4 linked regions of the Homo sapiens genome follow. The protein of the gene in region 2 purifies or fractionates together with the protein of the main gene of each other region. This does not show direct contact. Each region holds a gene or a part of one and is shown on either strand. Other genes may lie near its edges. The genes, in order: MKI67, NR2C2, SUCLG2 and GLUD1.

Region 1 (7,025 bases), on a different chromosome or scaffold from region 2:
ATTTCAGGAGGAAATGTGTTCTTCAGTGCACAGAATGCAGCAAAACAGCCATCTGATAAATGCTCTGCAAGCCCTCCCTTAAGACGGCAGTGTATTAGAGAAAATGGAAACGTAGCAAAAACGCCCAGGAACACCTACAAAATGACTTCTCTGGAGACAAAAACTTCAGATACTGAGACAGAGCCTTCAAAAACAGTATCCACTGCAAACAGGTCAGGAAGGTCTACAGAGTTCAGGAATATACAGAAGCTACCTGTGGAAAGTAAGAGTGAAGAAACAAATACAGAAATTGTTGAGTGCATCCTAAAAAGAGGTCAGAAGGCAACACTACTACAACAAAGGAGAGAAGGAGAGATGAAGGAAATAGAAAGACCTTTTGAGACATATAAGGAAAATATTGAATTAAAAGAAAACGATGAAAAGATGAAAGCAATGAAGAGATCAAGAACTTGGGGGCAGAAATGTGCACCAATGTCTGACCTGACAGACCTCAAGAGCTTGCCTGATACAGAACTCATGAAAGACACGGCACGTGGCCAGAATCTCCTCCAAACCCAAGATCATGCCAAGGCACCAAAGAGTGAGAAAGGCAAAATCACTAAAATGCCCTGCCAGTCATTACAACCAGAACCAATAAACACCCCAACACACACAAAACAACAGTTGAAGGCATCCCTGGGGAAAGTAGGTGTGAAAGAAGAGCTCCTAGCAGTCGGCAAGTTCACACGGACGTCAGGGGAGACCACGCACACGCACAGAGAGCCAGCAGGAGATGGCAAGAGCATCAGAACGTTTAAGGAGTCTCCAAAGCAGATCCTGGACCCAGCAGCCCGTGTAACTGGAATGAAGAAGTGGCCAAGAACGCCTAAGGAAGAGGCCCAGTCACTAGAAGACCTGGCTGGCTTCAAAGAGCTCTTCCAGACACCAGGTCCCTCTGAGGAATCAATGACTGATGAGAAAACTACCAAAATAGCCTGCAAATCTCCACCACCAGAATCAGTGGACACTCCAACAAGCACAAAGCAATGGCCTAAGAGAAGTCTCAGGAAAGCAGATGTAGAGGAAGAATTCTTAGCACTCAGGAAACTAACACCATCAGCAGGGAAAGCCATGCTTACGCCCAAACCAGCAGGAGGTGATGAGAAAGACATTAAAGCATTTATGGGAACTCCAGTGCAGAAACTGGACCTGGCAGGAACTTTACCTGGCAGCAAAAGACAGCTACAGACTCCTAAGGAAAAGGCCCAGGCTCTAGAAGACCTGGCTGGCTTTAAAGAGCTCTTCCAGACTCCTGGTCACACCGAGGAATTAGTGGCTGCTGGTAAAACCACTAAAATACCCTGCGACTCTCCACAGTCAGACCCAGTGGACACCCCAACAAGCACAAAGCAACGACCCAAGAGAAGTATCAGGAAAGCAGATGTAGAGGGAGAACTCTTAGCGTGCAGGAATCTAATGCCATCAGCAGGCAAAGCCATGCACACGCCTAAACCATCAGTAGGTGAAGAGAAAGACATCATCATATTTGTGGGAACTCCAGTGCAGAAACTGGACCTGACAGAGAACTTAACCGGCAGCAAGAGACGGCCACAAACTCCTAAGGAAGAGGCCCAGGCTCTGGAAGACCTGACTGGCTTTAAAGAGCTCTTCCAGACCCCTGGTCATACTGAAGAAGCAGTGGCTGCTGGCAAAACTACTAAAATGCCCTGCGAATCTTCTCCACCAGAATCAGCAGACACCCCAACAAGCACAAGAAGGCAGCCCAAGACACCTTTGGAGAAAAGGGACGTACAGAAGGAGCTCTCAGCCCTGAAGAAGCTCACACAGACATCAGGGGAAACCACACACACAGATAAAGTACCAGGAGGTGAGGATAAAAGCATCAACGCGTTTAGGGAAACTGCAAAACAGAAACTGGACCCAGCAGCAAGTGTAACTGGTAGCAAGAGGCACCCAAAAACTAAGGAAAAGGCCCAACCCCTAGAAGACCTGGCTGGCTTGAAAGAGCTCTTCCAGACACCAGTATGCACTGACAAGCCCACGACTCACGAGAAAACTACCAAAATAGCCTGCAGATCACAACCAGACCCAGTGGACACACCAACAAGCTCCAAGCCACAGTCCAAGAGAAGTCTCAGGAAAGTGGACGTAGAAGAAGAATTCTTCGCACTCAGGAAACGAACACCATCAGCAGGCAAAGCCATGCACACACCCAAACCAGCAGTAAGTGGTGAGAAAAACATCTACGCATTTATGGGAACTCCAGTGCAGAAACTGGACCTGACAGAGAACTTAACTGGCAGCAAGAGACGGCTACAAACTCCTAAGGAAAAGGCCCAGGCTCTAGAAGACCTGGCTGGCTTTAAAGAGCTCTTCCAGACACGAGGTCACACTGAGGAATCAATGACTAACGATAAAACTGCCAAAGTAGCCTGCAAATCTTCACAACCAGACCCAGACAAAAACCCAGCAAGCTCCAAGCGACGGCTCAAGACATCCCTGGGGAAAGTGGGCGTGAAAGAAGAGCTCCTAGCAGTTGGCAAGCTCACACAGACATCAGGAGAGACTACACACACACACACAGAGCCAACAGGAGATGGTAAGAGCATGAAAGCATTTATGGAGTCTCCAAAGCAGATCTTAGACTCAGCAGCAAGTCTAACTGGCAGCAAGAGGCAGCTGAGAACTCCTAAGGGAAAGTCTGAAGTCCCTGAAGACCTGGCCGGCTTCATCGAGCTCTTCCAGACACCAAGTCACACTAAGGAATCAATGACTAACGAAAAAACTACCAAAGTATCCTACAGAGCTTCACAGCCAGACCTAGTGGACACCCCAACAAGCTCCAAGCCACAGCCCAAGAGAAGTCTCAGGAAAGCAGACACTGAAGAAGAATTTTTAGCATTTAGGAAACAAACGCCATCAGCAGGCAAAGCCATGCACACACCCAAACCAGCAGTAGGTGAAGAGAAAGACATCAACACGTTTTTGGGAACTCCAGTGCAGAAACTGGACCAGCCAGGAAATTTACCTGGCAGCAATAGACGGCTACAAACTCGTAAGGAAAAGGCCCAGGCTCTAGAAGAACTGACTGGCTTCAGAGAGCTTTTCCAGACACCATGCACTGATAACCCCACGACTGATGAGAAAACTACCAAAAAAATACTCTGCAAATCTCCGCAATCAGACCCAGCGGACACCCCAACAAACACAAAGCAACGGCCCAAGAGAAGCCTCAAGAAAGCAGACGTAGAGGAAGAATTTTTAGCATTCAGGAAACTAACACCATCAGCAGGCAAAGCCATGCACACGCCTAAAGCAGCAGTAGGTGAAGAGAAAGACATCAACACATTTGTGGGGACTCCAGTGGAGAAACTGGACCTGCTAGGAAATTTACCTGGCAGCAAGAGACGGCCACAAACTCCTAAAGAAAAGGCCAAGGCTCTAGAAGATCTGGCTGGCTTCAAAGAGCTCTTCCAGACACCAGGTCACACTGAGGAATCAATGACCGATGACAAAATCACAGAAGTATCCTGCAAATCTCCACAACCAGACCCAGTCAAAACCCCAACAAGCTCCAAGCAACGACTCAAGATATCCTTGGGGAAAGTAGGTGTGAAAGAAGAGGTCCTACCAGTCGGCAAGCTCACACAGACGTCAGGGAAGACCACACAGACACACAGAGAGACAGCAGGAGATGGAAAGAGCATCAAAGCGTTTAAGGAATCTGCAAAGCAGATGCTGGACCCAGCAAACTATGGAACTGGGATGGAGAGGTGGCCAAGAACACCTAAGGAAGAGGCCCAATCACTAGAAGACCTGGCCGGCTTCAAAGAGCTCTTCCAGACACCAGACCACACTGAGGAATCAACAACTGATGACAAAACTACCAAAATAGCCTGCAAATCTCCACCACCAGAATCAATGGACACTCCAACAAGCACAAGGAGGCGGCCCAAAACACCTTTGGGGAAAAGGGATATAGTGGAAGAGCTCTCAGCCCTGAAGCAGCTCACACAGACCACACACACAGACAAAGTACCAGGAGATGAGGATAAAGGCATCAACGTGTTCAGGGAAACTGCAAAACAGAAACTGGACCCAGCAGCAAGTGTAACTGGTAGCAAGAGGCAGCCAAGAACTCCTAAGGGAAAAGCCCAACCCCTAGAAGACTTGGCTGGCTTGAAAGAGCTCTTCCAGACACCAATATGCACTGACAAGCCCACGACTCATGAGAAAACTACCAAAATAGCCTGCAGATCTCCACAACCAGACCCAGTGGGTACCCCAACAATCTTCAAGCCACAGTCCAAGAGAAGTCTCAGGAAAGCAGACGTAGAGGAAGAATCCTTAGCACTCAGGAAACGAACACCATCAGTAGGGAAAGCTATGGACACACCCAAACCAGCAGGAGGTGATGAGAAAGACATGAAAGCATTTATGGGAACTCCAGTGCAGAAATTGGACCTGCCAGGAAATTTACCTGGCAGCAAAAGATGGCCACAAACTCCTAAGGAAAAGGCCCAGGCTCTAGAAGACCTGGCTGGCTTCAAAGAGCTCTTCCAGACACCAGGCACTGACAAGCCCACGACTGATGAGAAAACTACCAAAATAGCCTGCAAATCTCCACAACCAGACCCAGTGGACACCCCAGCAAGCACAAAGCAACGGCCCAAGAGAAACCTCAGGAAAGCAGACGTAGAGGAAGAATTTTTAGCACTCAGGAAACGAACACCATCAGCAGGCAAAGCCATGGACACACCAAAACCAGCAGTAAGTGATGAGAAAAATATCAACACATTTGTGGAAACTCCAGTGCAGAAACTGGACCTGCTAGGAAATTTACCTGGCAGCAAGAGACAGCCACAGACTCCTAAGGAAAAGGCTGAGGCTCTAGAGGACCTGGTTGGCTTCAAAGAACTCTTCCAGACACCAGGTCACACTGAGGAATCAATGACTGATGACAAAATCACAGAAGTATCCTGTAAATCTCCACAGCCAGAGTCATTCAAAACCTCAAGAAGCTCCAAGCAAAGGCTCAAGATACCCCTGGTGAAAGTGGACATGAAAGAAGAGCCCCTAGCAGTCAGCAAGCTCACACGGACATCAGGGGAGACTACGCAAACACACACAGAGCCAACAGGAGATAGTAAGAGCATCAAAGCGTTTAAGGAGTCTCCAAAGCAGATCCTGGACCCAGCAGCAAGTGTAACTGGTAGCAGGAGGCAGCTGAGAACTCGTAAGGAAAAGGCCCGTGCTCTAGAAGACCTGGTTGACTTCAAAGAGCTCTTCTCAGCACCAGGTCACACTGAAGAGTCAATGACTATTGACAAAAACACAAAAATTCCCTGCAAATCTCCCCCACCAGAACTAACAGACACTGCCACGAGCACAAAGAGATGCCCCAAGACACGTCCCAGGAAAGAAGTAAAAGAGGAGCTCTCAGCAGTTGAGAGGCTCACGCAAACATCAGGGCAAAGCACACACACACACAAAGAACCAGCAAGCGGTGATGAGGGCATCAAAGTATTGAAGCAACGTGCAAAGAAGAAACCAAACCCAGTAGAAGAGGAACCCAGCAGGAGAAGGCCAAGAGCACCTAAGGAAAAGGCCCAACCCCTGGAAGACCTGGCCGGCTTCACAGAGCTCTCTGAAACATCAGGTCACACTCAGGAATCACTGACTGCTGGCAAAGCCACTAAAATACCCTGCGAATCTCCCCCACTAGAAGTGGTAGACACCACAGCAAGCACAAAGAGGCATCTCAGGACACGTGTGCAGAAGGTACAAGTAAAAGAAGAGCCTTCAGCAGTCAAGTTCACACAAACATCAGGGGAAACCACGGATGCAGACAAAGAACCAGCAGGTGAAGATAAAGGCATCAAAGCATTGAAGGAATCTGCAAAACAGACACCGGCTCCAGCAGCAAGTGTAACTGGCAGCAGGAGACGGCCAAGAGCACCCAGGGAAAGTGCCCAAGCCATAGAAGACCTAGCTGGCTTCAAAGACCCAGCAGCAGGTCACACTGAAGAATCAATGACTGATGACAAAACCACTAAAATACCCTGCAAATCATCACCAGAACTAGAAGACACCGCAACAAGCTCAAAGAGACGGCCCAGGACACGTGCCCAGAAAGTAGAAGTGAAGGAGGAGCTGTTAGCAGTTGGCAAGCTCACACAAACCTCAGGGGAGACCACGCACACCGACAAAGAGCCGGTAGGTGAGGGCAAAGGCACGAAAGCATTTAAGCAACCTGCAAAGCGGAAGCTGGACGCAGAAGATGTAATTGGCAGCAGGAGACAGCCAAGAGCACCTAAGGAAAAGGCCCAACCCCTGGAAGATCTGGCCAGCTTCCAAGAGCTCTCTCAAACACCAGGCCACACTGAGGAACTGGCAAATGGTGCTGCTGATAGCTTTACAAGCGCTCCAAAGCAAACACCTGACAGTGGAAAACCTCTAAAAATATCCAGAAGAGTTCTTCGGGCCCCTAAAGTAGAACCCGTGGGAGACGTGGTAAGCACCAGAGACCCTGTAAAATCACAAAGCAAAAGCAACACTTCCCTGCCCCCACTGCCCTTCAAGAGGGGAGGTGGCAAAGATGGAAGCGTCACGGGAACCAAGAGGCTGCGCTGCATGCCAGCACCAGAGGAAATTGTGGAGGAGCTGCCAGCCAGCAAGAAGCAGAGGGTTGCTCCCAGGGCAAGAGGCAAATCATCCGAACCCGTGGTCATCATGAAGAGAAGTTTGAGGACTTCTGCAAAAAGAATTGAACCTGCGGAAGAGCTGAACAGCAACGACATGAAAACCAACAAAGAGGAACACAAATTACAAGACTCGGTCCCTGAAAATAAGGTGAGAGGAAGTATTACAGCATCACTCAATATCGTCTTGGATAGTTGTGAATTTCTGTGTTATACTTTGCATGTAACCTGACGTTATAAGTGGTTATCCTTTCCCCAGAGGGTTTCCTTTAACACTGAATAACTGCAGGCCATGGTAAAGAATCTTCTTGGGACCTATAGAGG
Region 2 (7,852 bases):
AAAAAAAGGGGGTGGGGATAGGTGGCTAACAGCAATTACGTGAGGTTTAAAAGTTTATTTTACAACCATGTAATTGTACAAATGATATAAACAGAAGTCAGATAAAATTATTAGTACATATATAGTACTAAAGCATAAACTATTACAGAAAATTTGATACAAAGTTGTACATAAGTACTTGTAAAGGCAATTAAGCTTCCCCAGTCTATGGGAATACAAAAGTTGCCAGCAATTAATTTACATTACAAAAAAGGAAAACCATTATTTATGCTATCACAAAAGCAATACCCTTAAAAGTAAAAACAATCTCCACTTGATATTAGTAATTTGAAAAACTTAGCATATCTACAACTACTGCTTAATCAACACTTTTCATTGATTCAACATTATCACTTAAATGCAGATGCAAAATAACCTTGCATGGCAAACATGTTTACTCTGTGCTAATGAAACTATGAAACAGTTCCTCCAAGTTCACAGACAAGTCAATCAATGATTGACTACAGAACAGACTGGTGAGTGTTACAAAAAAAAAAAGACCTGCCCAGGGGACCACTAGGGGTGGAGGAAGAACACCTGGGTCTCACTCACTGGGCACTTGATGCTTTCATTTTTATCTGTAAGCCAGGGGACAATTATATTAATATTGTATGAATACACTGCTACTGGGAAAAGCATTCATTCAACAGATGCCCACTACATACTCTGTACCAGGTAGTGTGTTAAGTGCTGAAACAGGGAAGGACAAGGCACATCCTACGGGGGCTCGCAGTGTGGGCAGGTGCTGAGCTAACGCACACACACAAGGGCTGGGTACTGCCAGATCTGTATCACTCCGGAGCAACGACCTGTCTCTCTGAATGATCTCTGGCATGGTAAAAGAGTTAACTGTATTTCAAAAGGTGAAACAAAACTTTTTTTGCTTTGTTATGCATGTTTCAAATTGATCAGTGGTTCAGGCCTGGAGTATGCATCAGAATTATCTGTGAAGCTTAGTGAAAGTGCTGATGCCAGAGCCCACCCAAAGCTTACTGCTTCAGAACCACTGGGGACCTGGCAGTTCTGATGTGCACGACTAGTCAAGAATCCTTTAAAGGCTGATAAAGCAATCTTGAAATCACTGTCAATGCAAAAGTGGATGTTCCTCATTAATAAGAACTCAAAAAATAAAGTACAGCTAGTATAAGACTTGTTTTTTGTGCCTATAAAACCCAAGTGTTAGCTACTTTCTAACTATAAAATTCTATCCAAAAAGACTTGCAGTCAAAACACCGAGCCAAAAAACAAAAAAGGCACCAAAGCAGTGCCGACTTCAATGTGCAAAGGCCTTTTACGTGCTGATATTGTAAGCAATCTGTGTGCATGTGTACATATGCATCTGTTTTCAGGGAAAGAAAAGCTGTTAAAGCCAATTAAGGTTATGAATTCTTGCTACTACTTTAATATTAAACCTTTAAGTGAAAATTTATTGAACACTATTACAAATGTGGCAAACTGACATAGCTGGTTTACTGCACAAACTTTAATGTCAAAGGGATTAGATCAGAGCTCCAGTCTCACTTACTGGGCCTATAACATTGTGCAGGGCACTTATCTCACCTCAGGAAAATGGAAGTAACTGCTTCATTTTACAGAGGTATTAAATGAAAGAAATGAGAAAACTATAAACCAACATTGAAGCCTGAATTATTGCTTAGTATTTAAAGTCTAGTACAATTGCAATGTTTTTAATAAAAAAACTCATTGATAGGTGTATTTTTACAGTGTATCTAAAAGCAGCATTTAACATTAAAAACTTAGTATTTAAAAGAGTACACAACCAGGCAGGGTGTGGTGGCTCACGCCTGTAATCCTAACACTTTGGGAGGCCAAGATGGGAGGATCACTTGAGGCCAGGAGTTCGAGACCAGCCTGGTCAACACAGCGAGACCCCAACTTTTTTTTTTTTTGAGACAGTTTCGCTCATCGCCCAGGCTGGAGTGCAATGGTGTGATCTCGGCTCACTGCAACCTCTGCCTCCCGAGTTCAAATGATTCTCCTGTCGCAGCCTCATGAAGTAGCTGGAATTAGATGCCCGCCACCCCGCCTAGCTAATTTTTTTGTATTTTTAGTAGAGATGGGGTTTTACCATGTTAGTCAGGCTGGTCTTGAACTCCTGACCTCAGGTGATCCACCCACCTCACCTTCCCAAAATGCTGGGATTACAGGCATGAGCCACCATGCCCGGCCAATGCCATCTATTAAAAAAACAAAGAAAAAGAGTACACAACCACAAAGCACTGGGCCAAATGCATTGTTTCCATGTTTGCAAGGATTTACCATAGAAATATTAGGTTGATGCAAAAATTAAATTTCCAGACTGCGAATTTTAAATCATTGTAACTACGCTAAAACATATTCTATTAATCAAAACAGGAACCATTACAATCAACACATTTTTGCCAATGAGAAATGTTTGTTTATTCCTGTAGCATAAAAATCCGTGCTTCAGGATTTGACGAACTCTTGGAAAGCATTTTCTGCACCATGCTGAAGTGTTTTCCCTGCAAAAAGTTGTCAAGATGCTAGCAGAAGTGGTAGTCAGTTGGCGAAAGGTCAGGTGAATATGGTGGATGAGGCAAAACTTTGTAGCCCAATTCCTTCAACTTTTGAAGCACTGGTTGTGCGACACGCAGTCAGGTGTTGTCGTGGAGAAGAATTGGGCCCTTTCTGTTGACCAATGCAGGCAGCAGGTATTGCAGTTTTCGGTGCATCTTACCAATTTGCTGAGCATACTTCTCAGATGTAATGGTTTCACCAGGATTCAGAAAACTGTAGTGGATCAGATGGGCAGCAGACCACCGAACAGTGACCATGACCTTTTTTTTGGTGCAAGTTTGGCTTTGGGAACTGCTTTGGAGCTGCCTCTTGGTCCAACCACTGAGCTGGTTGTTGTATAAAATTCACTTTTCATTACATGTCACAATCCGATTGAGAAATGGTTTGTTGTTGCGTAGCATAAAAGAAGACTACACTTCAAAACGATAGTTTTGATTTCCGCTCAGCTCATGAGGCACCCACTTATCAAGCTTTTTCACCTTTCCAATTTGCTTCGAATGCTGAACGACCCTAATGACCGTAGAATAGTCAACGCTGAGTTCTTCTGTAATTTTTCATGTAGTTCAATGATTGCTCTCAATTGGTCGTTGTCAACTTCCCATGGCCCATATCACGTTCCTCATCTTCAAGGCTCTCTTCCTTGCAAAACTTCTTAAGCCACCACTGCACTGTATGTTTGTTAGCAGTTCCTGGGCCAAATGTGTTACTGATGTTTTGAGTTGTCTTCGCTGCTTTATGAACCATTTTGAACTCGAATAAGAAAACTGCTCCAAATTTGCTTTTTATCTAACATCATTAGACAAAAAGCATATTCTAAAATAAACAGCAATAAGTCATTAGCAAAAAAATAAAGTGAGAAATGTGCATTAAAATGATCCACATTTATTTAAGAATGTATTCCAATATCAAACAGCAAATTTCAAAAATGCAAAAACGCAATTGCTTTTGCCTCTCAGGTACATCACTTGACCTTTCTAGTTCTCACCCACTTCACCCCTAAAATCGGAAAATCTTTCTGCAAGAAAAAAATTTGACCACATTCCCTTAAGGCCTCTTCCAATTTCAAGAGCTGTGCTTTACCATGACAAAACGAACCTAGCTCTTTTCCCAATTTTGCAACGTCAGAAAAAGGAGGAAGGGGAAATAGCTGTGTTTAAAACATTTTTTACCAAATAGAAATATTATAAGATTATGGAAAAAAAAATACTAAATGTTGGAGTCATCCTGATAAAAACCCAAATGGATACTGTGTGGGAAAAAAAGTTAACCCATCCATTCTGGAGTCAATATTTATTCTTAATAAGCAAGAAAACTGAAGAAAAAAAATCAGTATAAGATCTACAGCCTGTAGCCTAAACACTTCAGGGCATTTAGGATAAATAAGCGCCTGCACCTTCCCAGGCAAGTCAAAACCACGACATAAAACAGAGAAATATGTAAGGAAAACCTACAGCCCAAGAGTTTAAGAGCAAGACAGGCCAATTTCTTCAAATAAATTTAAGCAATGCTGCTAAAAGCTGCTTTACACATCCCTATTACCATGTACTACTTCCAAATTTCGAGGAGGAGGGGCATGGAATTACACAAGATCTGGATCGTATGTTTACTAAGAAACCAAAAATTATAGGTTCTGGGGCGTTTCAACATTTCACCTGAGATGGCCAGAACGGGCGCATCTTTAGACCTTTAAAACCTAAATTAAAAACTATCAGTACCGAGGAAGGGCCGAAGAGCTCAATACCCACCCAATACAACCCCCACTTCCGACCTACAGACGCTCTGCTGAGCGGCTGGGAGAATCCGTCGCGCCAGTCAGGGCCCGGCTTCTTCCAACAACAGACACTTTGCGAGCCTTCCAGAAGCCTTGGCTAAGCGAGAAGGCAGGGTGGAGGCCGCCACTGCGAGGACGGTCCCCACCCAGCTGCGAGGAGCTCGCGGTTCCCCAGAGGGGCGGGCCTGCGTCCGGGTAACCGTGCGCGACGTCCACGAGTTTTTAGGACGACCAGCCCTTCAGCCTCTAGGCCCCGACGCCTGCGCCATTTAAGCCACATATCCGCCCGCCCGGCCGCGGCCAAGGCCGGCGGCAGCTACGTAGCCGCCGCCGCCCGGGGCCCCACAGCCCACGGGCCGGATGGACCGAGCGCCGGCTGCGGCGTTCCGGTGCGCGCGCGCGCCTCAGCCAATCGCGTTCTCGCCCGCCCCCCGCCGCGGCGGCGAGGCTGGCGCTGGGAAGAGGAAGAAGAACATTCGCCCTCCTCCTACCAGCGCGCGGGCGGCGGCGGCGGCGGCACCGGGGTCACGAACTCTGACCTTTCACTGACAAAAACAATAACAAACCCCCCCTTCTCCGCGACCCCGGCGGCGCCCCCGGGCCCGTCCCCGCCACCCCGCTCCCACCTCGGCGTCTCGTCTCTCGCCCGCTGCCCCGCGAGCCCGCGGCCCCCGGGCTCCCGCCATCCGCCGACACCGGGAGCCCGGGCTCCCCGCGCCCTGCCCTCCGCGCCGGGGGCCGCCCGCCGCAGACACGGGACCCGCTTCGAGGCCGCTTTGGCGCCAAATCCTGAGGTAAAATTGAAAGAGGGTCGGGCGGGCTCGGGCCGGCGGCGGAGGGGGCGGGCCTGGCGCGCGGACATGGAGGCGCCGCGGCGGCGGCTGAACCCGACCCTTTTACCTTTGCCACGGGGTGGCGGCGGCGGCGCCCGGCGCTTTGCATAGTGGGCCGGGCCGCTCCCCTCCCCTCCCCGCCCGCGGCCGGGCGAAGCGAGCGGGTTCCCCCTGACCGGCCCGGCCGGCGCAAGGGTGGGGGTGGAGGGGGAATGGCCGCGGCCCCGCCTTATAGTTGGCCCTCCGCCAGCGCCGCCATTTTGTTCTCGACGGAGATGGCTCCGGCTGGGCGGGCTCCCTTCCTCCTTATCCTCCTCCTCCTCCCGCCTGCAGTCCCTTCTTCCTTCTCTGCCGGGATTTTCACCCCTCCGCTTCTAGTCCGCCTTTGGCGGCCGTCGCAGCCCAACCGCCGTTTTTTCTGAAGGGGAGGGTAAAAGAAAAGGAGGAAGGCGGGTGCGAGGCGCGACCTCGTGAGCGACGGATGGGCTGGCTAATTGGCGCCCAGATAGGAGGGCCGGGGCCTGTGGCACCGCCCCCCTAAGCTTTGCTGATTGGCTGAGGCGGAAGAGGGTGGTCCTTATGGGGCGCGGGAGCCCTGGCGGGGCGGGAGTAGAGGCCGGGGCGAAGAGTGGGGCCGGGTCGGCGGGGGCGGGGCCGGGGGCGGGGCGCGAGGGGCGCGGCCGGGTGGAGAGGCCGGCGCCTGGTCTTGGGTCAGCAGGTGGGCTGCTTCCCTCCGCCTGGAACGCGTCTCGAATGAGTACTGAGGAACAATAGTAATAAAGGTGATGAAGCATTTCGAGTCCACGATGCGCTCTCGTGGGAAGAGGTTTTCGGAACCAGGACACTTTTCAGGGCTCCTGCTCGTTATTTCGCAGCGGCCTTGGCGAATCCCCTAATGAGGCTCAATTTTATCGACTGTAAATGGGGGGCATGCGCATTCTTGCCAGGCCGGACCTCCCTTCTGAGCATTGTTTGTGGGGCTCTACTCAGAAAATGGAGGCAACGCTACTTTGCGAGCTTCAGAGTCACTTGAAAATGGTGTTATTGTTAAAAATGGGATTACAGCCACCAGGAGAGGCAAGCGTTAAGGGTATTTGGGGTTTGAGAGAGCACAATTCGGGAGTGATTCTCTTCTCATTCGTTCGCTGAATACATGTTGACTTAGTTTTTTAGGCACTGGGGACACATCTGGAGAACCAGCTGTACAAGACCCCTGCCCTCACTAGAGTTGGGGGCTGGGGGGTGAATAGACAAATAATTCCAGAGAGTCATAAGTTCTGTGAAAGAAAAGAAGCCAAATGACCTGCTGAAGAAGACCTGAGGCGTTAATTTAGATGGAATGGTCAGGGTGGCCTCTCTGAGTAAGTGATGTTTGAACAGAGGAACCCAAGGGAGGAATGGCATTCCAGACAGGACATCCCGTGTAACGGCCCTGGAGGAAGAGCATTTGATGTGATCGAGAACTGGCTGCTTGTGGCTGGAGAGTTGGTTGGAACTAGTAATTGTCCATTATCCCACTTTGTTTCCAAGCCAAAGGCTGTGAAATATAGCAACGGTAGTGAGGAACAAATCTTCAATGTAATAAGAAAGTCGAGGAAAATACAGCCTTCATATGAATTACTGATGAATACATGACTTGGGAGGAGGGCCTCAGAAACTCACTTTACTTCCAGATTCAAATCCTTCGTCAGCCTCTTATATACATTTTCAGTTCATCAAGTATTTCCTGAGTGCTACGAATACTCCAGGCACTATGTGCTAGGCTGGGAATACAAAAAAGTAAGACACTGGTCCTCAAACATGTGAATATGATTTATTTATTTATTTATTTATTTTTTGAGACCAAGGTCTCACTCTGTCGCCCAGGCTGGAGTTGAATATAATTCTCTGTGTGTGAGTTCTCTCTTTCTCTCTCTCGAGATAGAGATATTTATACACATACATACACAGACATAAAATGTTTTAGTGTTGTGGTTAGCAACTCCCCAACTTTTACTAGCAGTGTGATTTTGTGTAAGCTACCTTTCCTAGCCTCACTGTCCTCATCTGGACAATAATAGAGCCTTCCTTCCTGAACTGAAGATTAGATGAGTTAATGTAAATAATAGAGCTTAGAAAAGTGCCTGACATGTAGCAAATACTGTGTAAATAGAGTTATTGTTGTCATTATGAACTACTGGTATAGACATTGGACTAATTAAGTGATATAAATAATGAAATTTTTATGCAGTGTGGTGTAGGGGCAAAAACAATAGATTCGAACACCGAGATTCTAGTTTTGGCTCTGTGCTTGCAGCTAGTTACATGGCATCCAGGACAAAAGTTTGGAAAACAAAATAATGGAACTAAATAGTACTAACCAAAGTATAGGGTGCTTTATGATTTACAGAACTCTCTTACAGGCAGTATGTTGTTCAGGCGCCACTAGAACCCACGTAATGGCAGAGGCTTCCTGTTCCATGTTTAAAAACCTTTCCAAGGCTTTTCATTATTTTCTTATCTGTGGTACCCCTAGCTTCCTGTGCTCTAGACACACTGGCCTACCTTCAACTTCCTTGACCAGTGTAGCTTACAGTGTAAGCTTACCCCCCACCCCCACCCTACCTCAGATATTGGCTCAAGCATCACTTCTTCAGGGAAGTCCTAATTC
Region 3 (7,025 bases), about 53 Mb from region 2:
TGTCACTACCTCCACCCTACAAAGGGTCACCAGTCCCCTGACTTATAACGCTGGTTTTGTTCAGTTTTGTACTTTAGGTGAAATTATATGTAGGCATACACATACTTCACATTGCTCAGCATTATATGTAAGTGATCCTGGAGATGGCCTTTTTGACATATGAGCTGAGACCTGAGCGATGAAAGGTAGCCAGCTAGGTGAGACTAAGGGGAAGAGTGTGTTAGGCAGAGCAGACAGCAAGTGCAAAGACTGAGATGAGAATGAGCTGGGCATGTCTAGGTAATTAGAGGGGGAAAGTGGTAGTAGACTAGGTCTGAGAGGAAGACAAGGGCCAAATCATGTGGAGACCTGCAGGGTCTGCTAAGGAGGTTTCAGGGGTTTAAACCATACAGAGGCTGAATCCCAGTCCTGGCAGCCAAAGCACAGGCATGTAATTAATGTACTGTACACGCCCCCTGTTATAAATCTAAGTTAGGCTGGCTTTGAAACTTTTAGCAGAGTGGTGTTCAGTGAATTTAGCAGTAAGGGTCTAACCATGGTTAGAAGTCTTTCCAAAGACCTAAATCCTGGTAGACAGGGGCCATGTTGCTGTGTCCATATAGCCAAGTGAAAAGTGTGTGCAGTACTTGGTGGTGTAATATAGCCAGGCACTGCCATGGTGGGCAAGATATGAGTACATACTGCCAGTCAAGTCTTAGGGGAAATGTTGGCTGAGGGCACTGAGTTTGAAATGGTTCTTAAGTCTAAGCACAGTTTTGTTGTCTCTTAGGGTATTTCCCCTCTCTTTGGCTAGTGGAAGTTCATGGAGCTCTCTTGTAGGAGAAGCACTGCCTTTCAGGTCTCCAATTTTATTTTACTTTTTTTTTGAAAGAGAGTCTCACTCTCACCCAGGCTGGAGTGCGGTGGCCTGATCTTGGCTCACTACAACCTCCTCCTCCTGGGTACAAGCGATTCTCCTGCCTCGGCTTCCTGAGTAGCTGGTACCACAGATGCACGCCACCATGCCTGGCTGATTTTTGTATTTTTAGTAGAGATGGGGTTTCGCCATGTTGGTCAGGTTTGTCTCAAACTCCTGACCTCAAGTGATCTGCCCCCTTCAGCCTCCCAAAGTGTTGGGATTACAGATGTGGGCCACTGTGCCTGGCCAGGCCTCCTATTTTAGAATCCTTGTTGTATGTTTTCTGTGCAGCCCAGAGCTTCTGTCCAGGGACTTACAGAGGAATGTATGTTGTCAAAGAAACTGCTTAAACCCATGCCCCTGCTGTTGTATACTCAGAAAGAATGGCTCCAGCCTAATTTTCTGCCTTTACGGAAGTGGGAGGAGAAAGATGAATGCATGACTTTTGTAAGTGAAGGACTAAAGGTTATGGGCAAGTTCTTATCAGCTAAATGAGGCTGTGGCGGCTGCATTGGAAGTTGTGACTTACCTGTATCTCCCTCTTGCCTAGGAGAATAAATATTTGACTTTTTTCTTTTTTTAAAATGAAGTACAGCTGCAATTTCTGCTTTTAGAAAAGGGAATCCATCTCAAATAATTTAGATGCTAAACTATTGACCTTCCTTGTGGGGAAGACCGTTAAGTGATAGCTTTGTCCTAAATTGGTTTTGTTTGCTGTAAATAAGGCATTTCTTTTATGGGTGAGTGATTGAGTGCACAGACCCACAGTAGTGAGAACATTCCTGCCCTCGTACCCTGGTCTAGTTCTGCAGGCGCAAAGCCCAGAAAGTCACTGAAATATGGCATATTTGGGGGAGGAAAAGAAATTACATAAGTAACCTCAGATCATTTGTCCTTCAGCTGTCTTTACCACTCAATCTGCAATTGTCACTTGATGCATCACTTTCTGTTACTTGATGGAAAAGTTTTACTGAAGAACTTGAGAGATTTGGAAATATTTGAACAAATGATAATATCAGTACACTAATGAAATTTGGAGATTAATCTTGAGAGTTTGTGAGGAAGGTGGAGGTGATGAAGAAGGCAGTCCAGGTGAATTCATGCAGAGGCAGAGGTGAGAGAACAGGGGGAGAGTAGTTGTAGTGAGCAGTTTAGTATGGAGAAGGGAGAGGTGGATAGCAGAAGTTGAGGGACAATGGCACTTTTGGGTATACAAAGAAGTCTAAATGGGGCTTCAGAAAGCCCAGAATTCAGCAGGGAATAAAATTAACCCCCACAACTGAAAAATCAAACAAATATCATTTATGTAGCAAATATTTTCTGAATGCTTATTACAGCTCATTCTTTATAGAATGTTGGGCAGATAAATATGACTGAGTGAATGCAGACAGGAATAAGAAACACAGCTCCTACCTTCAGAGGGCACAGAGGTACAACTGGCCTATAAACCTGTAGTTATACTAAAACATAGTGGGTACTGCAATTGAGCTGTGTTCTTAGCCTTCTAAGATACTGTTGGCCTCTGTCAACCACTTACCCTGTGTCTGCAGAACTATTCCCTCTGATCATTCATTGCCTGATCTCTGTCTTCATCAGCTTTCTGATTCAACGTTGATTCTTCAGATAGGCTTTTTCCTAATTACCTTACCCAGCCCTGCCTTTCCAGGGATTATTCTCTGTACCCTTATCTGCTTTGTTCTTTATAACACTTGACTGTACCTGGTAGTGTTATTTGTTCATTGGCCGTCTTCCCCGCTCTCCTACAAGTTTAAGAATGTAAGCTCCACAAAGGCAAAGTGATACAGCTTAATGTAACAGCGTGAGTGATTCCCCAGCTGGCCGGAGTTGGTATTCAGTAAGCATTTGTGGTCTCAGTCAATGAGTAGGGTGCACAGAGAAGGGAGAGGGAGGTAAGGAACAGGAGAAGTTGAGGGATGATGTGGCTCATTTCAGCAAATGAGGAAGAAGGAAGGGGCTATAGAAATCCTAGTTGTGAAAGGGTCCTCATAATCATAGAACTGTTCCTTGGGCATGTAGTATATAACAAGGCTGCGTGAAGTAATCTCCACACATTATTTCTTTAACCCTTACAACATCACTGCAGGGGAGATTTCACAGTCTCCATGTTTTATAGAAGCAGTCAGAGGCATAGAGAGGCCCTATAGTCATTTGCTTAAAATCACAGTGCCAGGGAGTCACCCGCCTCATGCTGATAAAGGACTTATGCTGTTAAATTATTAAGCTCTGTCACTGAAAGATCCTAGTTGGGCTGAACTAGGCAGTTAAACTGATTGCTTACCTTTCCCCATCTTTTTGCCCTTGAGTGACACTCGCCTTTGGTCATTTGGACTTGTGCTGATGAAGGTGTGCTGATCAACTTGGCATGGTTGCCCTTTCTGGACTCTTATCCACCTTCCTCTCTCTCTGGCTTCAGGGTCTTGTCAACAGAGTAGTAGGGAGATTAAAGACACGAAGTCTGGGTTCAAATTCAACGGAGTTCAAATTCTTATGGGATCTCCCATGTTCTTTCTCTGCAACCTGGAGCAAATTATTGAACCTGACTGAGCCTCAATTTACTGTTACTTGAAAAGGGGATCATTTGCACAGATAGTTACAAAGATTAAATAAGATGATATTTAAGACATTTGGCATATGACCCGATGGTGGGCCCAGGATGATTATTTCTCTTGCACTGAATTTGAAGCTAAATTCGCTGGTCTTTTTAAAAGGCTTTATTGAGCTAGAATAATTTTGCTTTCCCAGATTCAGTAAGCATTTATCATGTGCTGCCATCTCAGGATTAGTCACTGGCTTGGTGCTTCCATACATTTTATTTCACTTCATCCTTGCAGTAGCCATGTGAAATAGGAGTTATTGTTCCCAGCTTACTTCTGGGGAATCTGAGGCTCAGAGGGGTGAAGATCTGCCTCCCGGGCTCTGATTATCTTCAGGATTCCACAGTTGGGATGAATGTCTGGTGAGGCCTGAGGTGGCAGTGGGGAGGAGCTCATGGGGAGCTTAATTGTACCATCCTGGTTATTACTCATTTCACAAACATTTACATGTCTCAGTGTTGACTTAGTAGTGACGACTGCTGGACCTCGTGCATCAAAGATTTGAGGTGAGGGAACACTTAAAGAATTGGCAGTAGCCACAGCATGAACCAACGGCCAACTGGACATGACTTTCACTGTGTGCTTAGCACAAACTACTGCCCTCAGCGTTTCAAGAATGCTGGAGAAATTGTGAAATGTCATTGCCTTTGCAGAGTGGGCTTTGGGGGATGGTGTTGGAGGATGGAGTTTCCTGGTATTCTGGGTTCAGACTTTGACCAGTGTACTGAGTATGGTCAGCTTTTACCCTTTCTAGAAATGATTCCAAAAGAATAGGACTTAGGCAGTAGCCATAAATGCATAGATTTCTAACATTTACCTTTGAATTTTATTTTTATTTTAAAATTCGAGGGATTTGACATAATATATGAATTGTTAATGGAGACATGGCAAAGCACAAGGCATGGTTTGTGTAAGTTTGGGTCCTGTGGGTTGGAGTGGGGGGACTAGCATCTTTTTTCTGCTCCCATCCATTTCTCCCTGTGCTTGCTGTATTTCCATTTGTGGGCTGTCTTAGTCCCAGAGTTGTGACTTGAGAGCCCTAAGGAGGTTCAGGAGGGCTGCCTTGTAGAGTTTACGGTGAGAAATGAGGCCAGAGACAAGAGCAAGGACAAGATCGCTGATCCTGGTAGGCCTGGTAATGAAGCTAAGCTTGTTCTTGAGGAGGGCAATAGGGAGCCATTGAAGGGTTTTAGACAGTGAAGTGGCAAGGGCAGTTTAATGCGTAGAGTACTCTTTCTGGATATAGTGTGGAGAGGGTTGGAGAAATGCAAGAATGGAGATCATTTGGGCGACTTTGGCATCGATTCAATGCTGTGAGTCATTATGCCAGGATACTAGACGTACACCGTGAGTGGAATCAGACTGCCCGGGTTTAACTCTTGCCTTCAGCACTCCATAGCTTTGTGATCTTGTGACAATTACTTATATTTCTTTGTAAGATACCTTTTTTTTTTCTTTTTCACATTTCAGTGTCTCTGAAAGCTGAATTTATTTATTTTTATTTATATTTTTTCAGACAGAGTCTCACTCTCTTGCCCAGGCTTGAGTGCAGTGGTGAGATCTTGGCTCACTGCACCCTCCATCTTCCAGGTTCAAGTGATTCTCCTGACTCAGCCTCCCAAGTAGCTGGAATTACAGGTGTACACCACCACACCTAGCTAATTTTTGTATTTTTAGTAGAGATGGAGTTTCACCATGTTGGCCAGGCTTGTCTTCAACTCCTGACCTCAGGTGGTCCACCCACCTGGCCTCACAAAGTGCTGGGATTAAGGCGTGAGCCACCGTGCCCGGCCAAACTTTATTGTTTCGATATTGTCTGGTTTTAAGTAAGGGATCCACCCCCATCTTATTGTCTGTGGCTGAAGTCGGGAGGCCTGTGGAGAGGAACAGCACCATGCTTTCCTCCCTGCCTGAAGCAGGGCTCAGGGCTCTGGGTACAGTGTCTGGGGAGTGGCCTGATCCATTTAGGGCACCATATTCTCCCCTCCCCTCCCCTCTCCTCCCCTCCCCTCCCCTGCCCTCCCCTCCATTCCCCTCCCTTCCCCGTGCCCACAGCATTGATTGGCTTGCCCACAGCATTGAATAGAAGTAGGGATCAGCATTATAGCTTTACCAGAAAATATTAAGGTTTTCTCCTTATCAATGGAGATCTCTTCACATTTTTATAAGGAACTATTTTTTATCCTTTGCTTTTTGTCCCCAGCTTCTGCTTGTACTCTCTTACCTGTTGTTGAGATGCTATGCTATACCATCTGGACTTGAAGGACTTATTTGAGTTAGTAAGTCCTTTCCTACCTTTGAAAGAAAGGGGGAAAACCAGTTCTCATAGGCATTCTCATTCCAGCCTGAGGGCTTACGTGGGCCTTTAATAAGTAATAGAAAGTGGAGAGTTATGAATTATTTTTGATTAAGGGAATAAACTATTAATGATGAGTGTTTCTTTGTTAAGATTCAGGGCTCTTTTAAAGTGATGTATCATTAAAATTGAAAGCCAACAATACAGGGAAAAAAGGAATTTTTCAGCTTTTAACTTTTTTATAATTACCATGGAAAAAAATATACGTGCTATTTGGCACATTAGAAAAACTAAGTAAATTTTGAGATGGTGAAGTTGTAAACAGATTATCCTCATGAATTTTAAAATGATGCAGAAGGACTGAATGGCTGAGTGTTGAATAGGATGGTTGGAAATGGAGGCAGAAGGCTTGTGACTTGTCCTAAGCGAGGGTGGGCCTGAGGACGCTTTTAGGATTGGAGTCCCACGTCCAAAACTCACAGCATAGCATGTTGTGAGTGTCTAATGGATCCTTTCTTTTTTGTTTGATATGAGTATATGATGAGGCTTTTATGACCAGTATAAAATAGCTTTTATGACTATATTTTGTATAAAATATAATTTTAATATGTGGGGAGACTTACAGAGTTAAACTTTATAGGAAGATGAGAGAAAAATACTAAATTTTCTTTATGTTAAAGGGCCCCAAGTGAGAATATTTAGTAGTGGTATTTCATTTTGCTTAATATTGGCAGTATATCAGTAATGTTACGCTTATGGTAAGCCAAGAGTCATAGTGTTCCTTTCTTGAAGATGTGTTGTCATGTGCTACAGGATGAATCTATTTCCTCCTGCATACTTCAGAGTCCTTCTTTTCAGGTCAGTGGAATATTTTTCCTGGAATTTTGATGTTAAGCAACATTGTCATAATTTAGGTAAAATTAATTATTGACACAAAGCAGTGTTTTCTGATTGACTTTTAGGGTGTTGAGGGAGGTGGCAAAAGAATTGCTTTTTTGATTAAAAATTTGGATCATTAAGTTCCTTTTTTGTCTCTGAAACCTTGTTTTTGATTTCCAAAGCTTCTAAAGATACTAAAAAATATGAATGTGTATATTCTTTAATTTAAAATTTTTATTATATATTTATTATTGTAGTAAAATATACATGACATAAAATTGACCATTTTAACCATTTTTGCCATTTTTATCATTTTGCCATTTTAACCATACTCGGA
Region 4 (7,025 bases), on a different chromosome or scaffold from region 2:
TCATCTGCCTCTCTCCACCCTTTTACCAACCTTCAGCTTTCTGTATCTCATTTTCCCTCAAGAACAACCTTATCCCTGAGTTTTCTAAATTAAAATTCTTGAGGTTGAAGCAAAGCAACAATCTAGCAATAATCTCTAAGGGAAACAGATGGTTATAAGACTTGGTGGCTGATGTGTACTTTTTCCAAGTAAATATTTAATAATACACACTGTTTTTGTGCTTTTCTTTTCCCAGTTACTACATGTACCTGAGGCCGTTAGATTTGTCTGTGTTAAGGATTTGAAAGGGTAAGCTAAAGGATCTGAAGGGAAGTTTAAGTGAGGCCTTAAAAATATTTCCAGCAAAGGGGCATAGTGTGAGAATATGCGACTGATTTGAGAAGACTGGTTCAAAAGTTCTGGTGGGTTTGGAAATATTATCAAAGATTGTTCTATTAACTTTCCCAGAGTAAATTATCTGTATTTCATTTGCTATGGTTCTGCCTGAGACCAGTCTACCTTTTTAGAAGGAAGTTTATTGTTTTAAAGTCAGTTTGGAGGGAAAGTACAGATTGATAATAGCAATTTATTGATGGTAGGAGTCAATTAACTTTCTCTTCCAGTCTGCCCCCCCCCAGTTGTCTTGATATTAAAACTATTAAAATTCCCTATCACTGATGCTACTATCATAAAATTTTCTAAAATTATCATAATTTACATATAGTTGATGGACCGTAGATGGAGTTCTCTCATACATTGACCCTAAGTCTTTTAATTACAAATATTAGTACCCAAAAAAGTGTACCCTATATTAATCCAGTAACTAGTTTTTAAAAGTCAAAATGCCAGAAGGAAACAGTGGAATCTTGATGACATAATGCAAGGGAAGACCGGAGTCAATGCAGTGTTAAAGACGCCCTCAGCCTCTGGGATGTCATTGTTTAGCGCTTAAGGGAAGACTATAGAAAGCACTGATACTGATTTAAAATGAGATATTTCTCTGCCTTCACTGGGGGAAAAAATGTTTCTGACTTATTTTGCTGTGCTCAATTGACAACCATCAAAACTTAGGTAACTTTTAATAAACTCACAGTTTCTAATATTTTTAAGTGGCTGTGTGTCTGCATCTGCTGCCACAGATAAAATATAACCTTTGTAGGTGAATTTAATTTAGGACTTTTCTGAAAGTTCAGTCAGAGGATAGGTAATTTGTGTGTCTTTTAAAAGCACTTAGCCCCGAGGTTGTTGTTTTTAATACATCTTATTTAAATACGGAAATGTGTTGCCCTTATGCCTTTTTATTTCATGGAAGCCAAATGCGTCTTTTCTCCCAAAGTATACTAGAAAATGAAGACGCTTGGTAATGGTAGTGATCTGTACATCAGATTTCAGTCTTTCTGTCACTTGCGTGTATGAATCCATTTAGCAAGTTTGCTTTTGGCAGTAAAGCCCCACGTGCAGGAAGACAAACAGCTGCTCACTCATTATCCAAAGTATACTTTGTAAGAATTAGGGCATCAAAAATTGGATCCTAAGCACCAATATATATTAAAGTTCAGTACAACTTGTAGTGTTTAAGTACAAGAAATAAAAATTGAGCCTGAACTTTTGGCATATAGTGGGAAGAAATTAGGTTTACCGCTGTTAATAATTCAGAGTGCTTAGGAAAATCGGTTTTTATTTACTTATGTTAAAAATACTAAGGGTTCTGTAACCATTAAAAACTAAAATACTAACCTGTAGATGTTGAAAAAATCCTAGACACTAGTCTCTGCCACGTGACTGTTCTTCTTTTCTATTTATTTTACCCAATAATTAGGCTTTTACAATGTAAGTAATAAAGAGAAAAATCTCTAGTATCACTTTAGAGCACATTGATTCATAAATAGCCCATAAATTTTGTACTCAGCAACCCATAAAATACACATGCATGATTCACATAATCAAATAGTAACGAAAGTTACAAAATGAAAAGTGAAGCAGCTCTACCCCAAGTCCTTCCCCCAATATAACCATGAACAGTCTTAAATCTAATGCCGCTGTCTAAAACTGACTAGTTATTCAAATGAATCAATATTTTCCCCTTTCCAGAGGCAGAAATTAATACAGATTCAAGTGTTCACTATCAAGTCGGAATTGTTAATATGTGAAATACTACTGTTAAAGGCAGGAAAGGCTTTATTAAGGACAAGAAGACAAACTAGGAGAAGGAGCTACTCAAGACCTTCCGATTATCTTTACAAAAAGGCAACTACACCTAGAAGATTCTGCAGCCACACACATTCTGCCTTCACTTGAGGTCAACTGCCTTCACCAAGGTCAGATATTAGCAAAGGCTAACATTTATTCAGCTCTGTGTGTGCCAGGCATTTTATTAAGAACTTTTCATGCATCATCAGTTCTATGCCTTATAGCAACAATGCATGTAAGAACTTTTCATGTATCATTGCTTTTATGCCTCATGCAATACACTGTTGTCCCTGATTTCCAAATGTGGCTACTAAGGTTGAGGAGTGAAGTGTCCTTTGGCAGGGTGACACAGCTAGTACGTAGTGGAGTTGAGGTTCAGATTCTGGGCATCTGATTCCAGCACCCACCTTAATCATTGTTGTCTGGGATTTATTTATGCAAAAAGTTACAAATTGTATCTTAGGCTTTTAATTGTAAGCGCTGATTGAGAACCACTTCATGCCATTGACACAATGCTTCCTAATACTTTGGATCATAGATACCTTTGAAATTTCTGTTAAAAGCTATTAGAAGACCTACCTTCTTCCTAGAAAAATACATATTCAAACAGCTTTGCATATAAAACTCAGCATAGATGATATCTCTAGAGGTCCATTTATTCTAATTGCTAAGGAAATGAAATAACCTTTTTCCCCTACACCCAACTCCGAAGACCTGAAATAACATTTTAAACAGTTTTCCATCAAAAGAGGTTTGAAGACTTTGGTGTTTAAGAGATTAATGTGTTAGCCAGAACAACTCATTTCTCTACCAGTGTGTAGTCCATTTATCTTTAAAGATTTTCTATTGAATAATTTTGAAATTACTTTCTTAGTTTTCTTCATTAAAAACTAAGAAAATGCTTTGTTTATTATGAATTGCTATTTCTCTTGATTATTATTCTTGGAGAAAGTCTATCAGACGTAATTCTTCTGATTTGCTTCTAGGCTAGAGGAAAATGTGAAAGATGACAAATGAAAATTTCAAAGGTTGTCAGTAGTATGACTTCTTTTATCGTTTGTCATTATCACAAATATATCAACATAGGACTTTTAAAAGATATTTTGTACATATTGGGCCTTAGTAGGATTTTGCATGAATTTTTTTTTTCTTTTATGCCAAGAGAGAAAGAGCAAAGAAATAACCAAGGGTGATGTACTCGTATTGAAGGTTTACCAAATAAGGACTGCTTTTATTATGAACTATAGTCTATATTCTAAGTAAATCAATTTTTCTATTATGTGTTTTTTGTTCCTGCAGGCAAGATCTCTGAACTTTATGCAGAGGGTTCTTTTAAAAAAACAAAGTTGAATTTTTTTATTTCTTGGAATATTTTTTTTCATTGATTTCTCCCAAGTAGAGCAGATTCAAATCTCCTTTGTACCCTATGTCTTTTTTGTTTTGCTATAAGCTCAGTATTCCATTTCTACATTTTCCTTTCCTAGAACCAGTCAATAAATGACAAAAAAAAAAACAAAACAAAGTAAATCATGTGTTGTTGCAGTAGGAGTTCAAGGAAACCAAGGACAATCTTGTTTGTTTATTTGTTTTTTTGTTTGTTTTTTTTTTGAAACAGAGTTTTGCTCTTGTTGCCCAGGCTGGCATACAGTGGCGCGATCTTGGCTCACTACAACCTCTGCTTACCAGGTTCAAGCAATTTTCCTGCCTCAGCCTACCAAGTAGCTGGGATTACAGGCATGCACCACCTCACCTAGCTGATTTTTGTATATTTAGTAGAGACAGGGTTTTGCCATGTTGGTCAGGCTGGTCTCGAACTCCCGACCTCATGTGATCAGCCCACCTCGGCCTCCTAAAGTGCTGGGATTACAGGCGTGAGCCACCGTGCCTGGCAGACAGACAGTCTTGATGTGGGAACAGAGAAGGCTGGATAGGAGTTGGATAAGGCCATTTCAGATAAAGAGGGGGTGGCTTCACCCAAGGCAGGAAGTGGAACTGTGTGTAAGGGGGTCATGAGGACAAACTACATTTGTAAATAATGAGAAATAAGGGCTTGTGACAGTAAATATATTTGGTCTCTTTGCCTGGTTCCCAACACAGAGCTCCTGAATGTCGCAAATTCCTGAGTGATAGGAGCATCTTTTGTTCTAACTAGGACACTCTTAATGGGCTTCTGGGTAGCTTCAAGGTGGGGACTAGTCACCAAAAAGACCAAGCCATAATTAGAAATTTGGAACTTTCAGTCCCACCCTTTGACCTCTGGAGATTGGAAAGGGGCTGAAGATTGAGTTTAATCAGCAATCAGTCATGCCCTCATAATGGAACCTCTATACAAACCCTAACTGATGGCTGGAGTATGGGGAGAGTTCAGAGAGCTTCCAGGTTGGTGAATGCATCCATGTATGGGTAGGGTGGTACCCTCCAAATTCCAGGGGAACAGAAGCTCCTGCAGTGGGGACATTCCAGACATGGCCCTGTGTACCTCTTCATGTTGCTGTTGATTTGTATCCTTTACATAAGTAACGTTTCCCTGAGTCCTGTGAGCCTTTATAACATTATTGAACCTGAGGAGGGGGCCATGGGAACCCCCTGGTTGGTAGCCAAGTTGGACAGAAGTGTGGGTGCCCTGGGCACCCAAGACTTGGAACTGGCATCTGAAGTAGGGAACAGTCTTGTGCGACTGAGCCCTTGAGCTGTGGGGTCTGTGCTAACCCTGGTAGTCAGTGTCATAACTGAATTGCAGGACACCCAGTTTGTATCTGCAGAGAACTGGAGAACTGCTTAGTGTGGAAAACCCACACATTTGGTGTCAGAAATGTGTGAGAAAAAACAATTTTTTCCTTTTTTTTTTTTTTTTTTTCTTTGAGACGGAGTCTCGCTGTCTCCCAGGCTGGAGTGCAGTGGCGCGATCTTGGCTTACTGCAAGCTCCGCCTCCTGGGTTGATGCCATTCTCCTGCCTCAGCCTCCTGAGTAGCTGGGACTACAGGCGCCCACCGCCACGCTGGCTAATTTTTTTTTTTTTTTGTATTTTTAGTGGAGACGGGGTTTCACCATGTTAGCCAGGATGGTCTTGATCTCCTGACCTCATGATCCGCCCGCCTCGGCCTCCCAAAGTGCTGGGATTACAGGCGTGAGCCACCGCGCCAGGCCAATTTTTTCCTTTTATGTTTGTTGGATGAATAATGATGAATCTAGCAGGGCACAGAAAGCTAGGCAGCAGTGGAACTGAGAATGAAGTTATAGTTAATAGCAGAGAATGAAAAAGAAAAGACAGATAAAACATTTTGAAGAAAGGACAGTAATGTATTCCCAACAGGTAGGATTTACAGGATGAAGGAGAGAAGAGGCAAAGATAACCACAAAATTTCTAGCCTGAGAGACTGGTAGAAAAAAATGGTGGTATCAGGGACAGATGGGGTTATTAAGGAAAAGGATTGGATTTTTAAAATAAAGAAGATCTGGTGTAAAATTATCCTTAGGGAAATTGGAAATCCAGGCACGTACTTCTCTCCATCATGCCCTTGAATAGTGCAGTCCCTCTGCCTGTCCATGCCTCACTTCCCCCTCCCTAGGATTCCTCTGCCTCTCTTAAGACCCATCTCAAATTATCACGTAGACTTGTAAATAATTTATATGAAACTGGATAGCTGAGGTTTCAAGCCTTTATCCCTTTGAAACTTTTTAATAACAAGTTATTGTTACCTTTTACTAAATCCAACTTTATATTCACCATTTTAACTAGCATCATTTCCGATTCCAAGACCTGTTTGGTGTGAAAGTGCAGCTAAGTTACTGTTAATCAAGATCAGAATAAAAGAATCTACCAAGAAAAATTAACAAAATCCCCCTTTTAATGTATAATCTTCCATCTGTCAGGCTGTAAGTTAAATAACACAAAACAAAGCTGTATGTTTTATGGATATGTACATATATAATTGCAGGGAACATGATTTGGAAGGATATACACTTACATTGCTAAGAATAGTCACCCCTAAGGAGAAGACTGGGGTCATAAGTGGAAGTCAAGGGAGTCTTCAGCTTTCTTTTTGTATTTAAATTTTGATAGAAATACATACATATGTGTTATAATTTTAAATTTTTAATGAAAAAAGTATTCTTCCGTTTTTTCTTTGATGTGTCAATAGGTTATATTTTTCTAATATCAGCTAAACATTTGCTTCCCAGAAAGCTTAGTTACCTCTTCAAAATTTATTCAGGTTAAAATAAAAGATTTAGACTGGATTAAAAATCTAAGATGGTATTTGCCTACTTTATACAAAACAGTACATTGATGCTGCTAAAGCAATTAAAGTATAATTTTTCTGGTTTTTTTTTTTTTTTTTGGAGACGGAGTCTCACTCTCTGTCGCCCAGGCTGAAGTGCAATGGTGCAATCTCCACTCATTGCAACCTCGGTCTCCCAGGTTTAAGCGATTCTCCTGCCTCAGCCTCCCCAGTAGCTGGGATTACAGGTGTGCACCACCACGCCCAGCTAATTTTGTTGTGTGTTTAGTAGAGACAGGGTTTCATCATGTTGGCCAGGCTGGTCTCGAACTCCTACCTCAAATGATCTGCCCACCTCAGCCTCCCAAAGTGCTGGGATTACACGCGTGAGCCACCACGCCCAGCCTAAAGTGTGTACTTTTTCTTAGCTCCTATATGCAGTGCTCCTTCCCATGCTGAATGTCTGAATTTTTATCTGAGACGTAGTATTTCAGGTGGTCATTACTTGTGGGTGGTCATTGAGAGTTCCTCCCTGCTTCTAACCTTCCTCTCTTCATTTTAAATTAAGTTACGCTACATTATTGTGGGTTAGAAGGTACATTAATATTAAGTGAAAAAATATAATCTGATGAGTA

What was found.
Region 1: the proteins of NR2C2 (region 2) and MKI67 purify together in Homo sapiens (affinity purification with mass spectrometry; 2 studies listed by BioGRID and IntAct, with this or other methods). This does not show direct contact.
Region 3: the proteins of NR2C2 (region 2) and SUCLG2 purify together in Homo sapiens (affinity purification with mass spectrometry; 2 studies listed by BioGRID). This does not show direct contact.
Region 4: the proteins of NR2C2 (region 2) and GLUD1 purify together in Homo sapiens (affinity purification with mass spectrometry; 2 studies listed by BioGRID, with this or other methods). This does not show direct contact.

What each region holds. Positions count from the first base shown.
Region 1 is NC_000010.11:128,102,406-128,109,430, reverse strand, and holds part of MKI67 (proliferation marker protein Ki-67), read left to right. Parts: intron 1-7; coding exon 8-6,852; intron 6,853-7,025. UniProt on the Homo sapiens protein: Protein that associates with the surface of mitotic chromosomes and acts both as a chromosome repellent during early mitosis and chromosome attractant during late mitosis.
Region 2 is NC_000003.12:14,942,744-14,950,595, forward strand, and holds the start of NR2C2 (nuclear receptor subfamily 2 group C member 2), read left to right. Parts: upstream 1-4,839; 5' UTR 4,840-5,163; intron 5,164-5,269; exon of another isoform or gene 5,270-5,698; intron 5,699-5,888; exon of another isoform or gene 5,889-6,981; intron 6,982-7,852. UniProt on the Homo sapiens protein: Orphan nuclear receptor that can act as a repressor or activator of transcription.
Region 3 is NC_000003.12:67,644,596-67,651,620, reverse strand, and holds part of SUCLG2 (succinate--CoA ligase [GDP-forming] subunit beta, mitochondrial isoform 2 precursor), read left to right. Parts: intron 1-7,025. UniProt on the Homo sapiens protein: GTP-specific succinyl-CoA synthetase functions in the citric acid cycle (TCA), coupling the hydrolysis of succinyl-CoA to the synthesis of GTP and thus represents the only step of substrate-level phosphorylation in the TCA.
Region 4 is NC_000010.11:87,084,834-87,091,858, reverse strand, and holds part of GLUD1 (glutamate dehydrogenase 1, mitochondrial isoform a precursor), read left to right. Parts: intron 1-235; exon of another isoform or gene 236-2,297; intron 2,298-7,025. UniProt on the Homo sapiens protein: Mitochondrial glutamate dehydrogenase that catalyzes the conversion of L-glutamate into alpha-ketoglutarate. Plays a key role in glutamine anaplerosis by producing alpha-ketoglutarate, an important intermediate in the tricarboxylic acid cycle.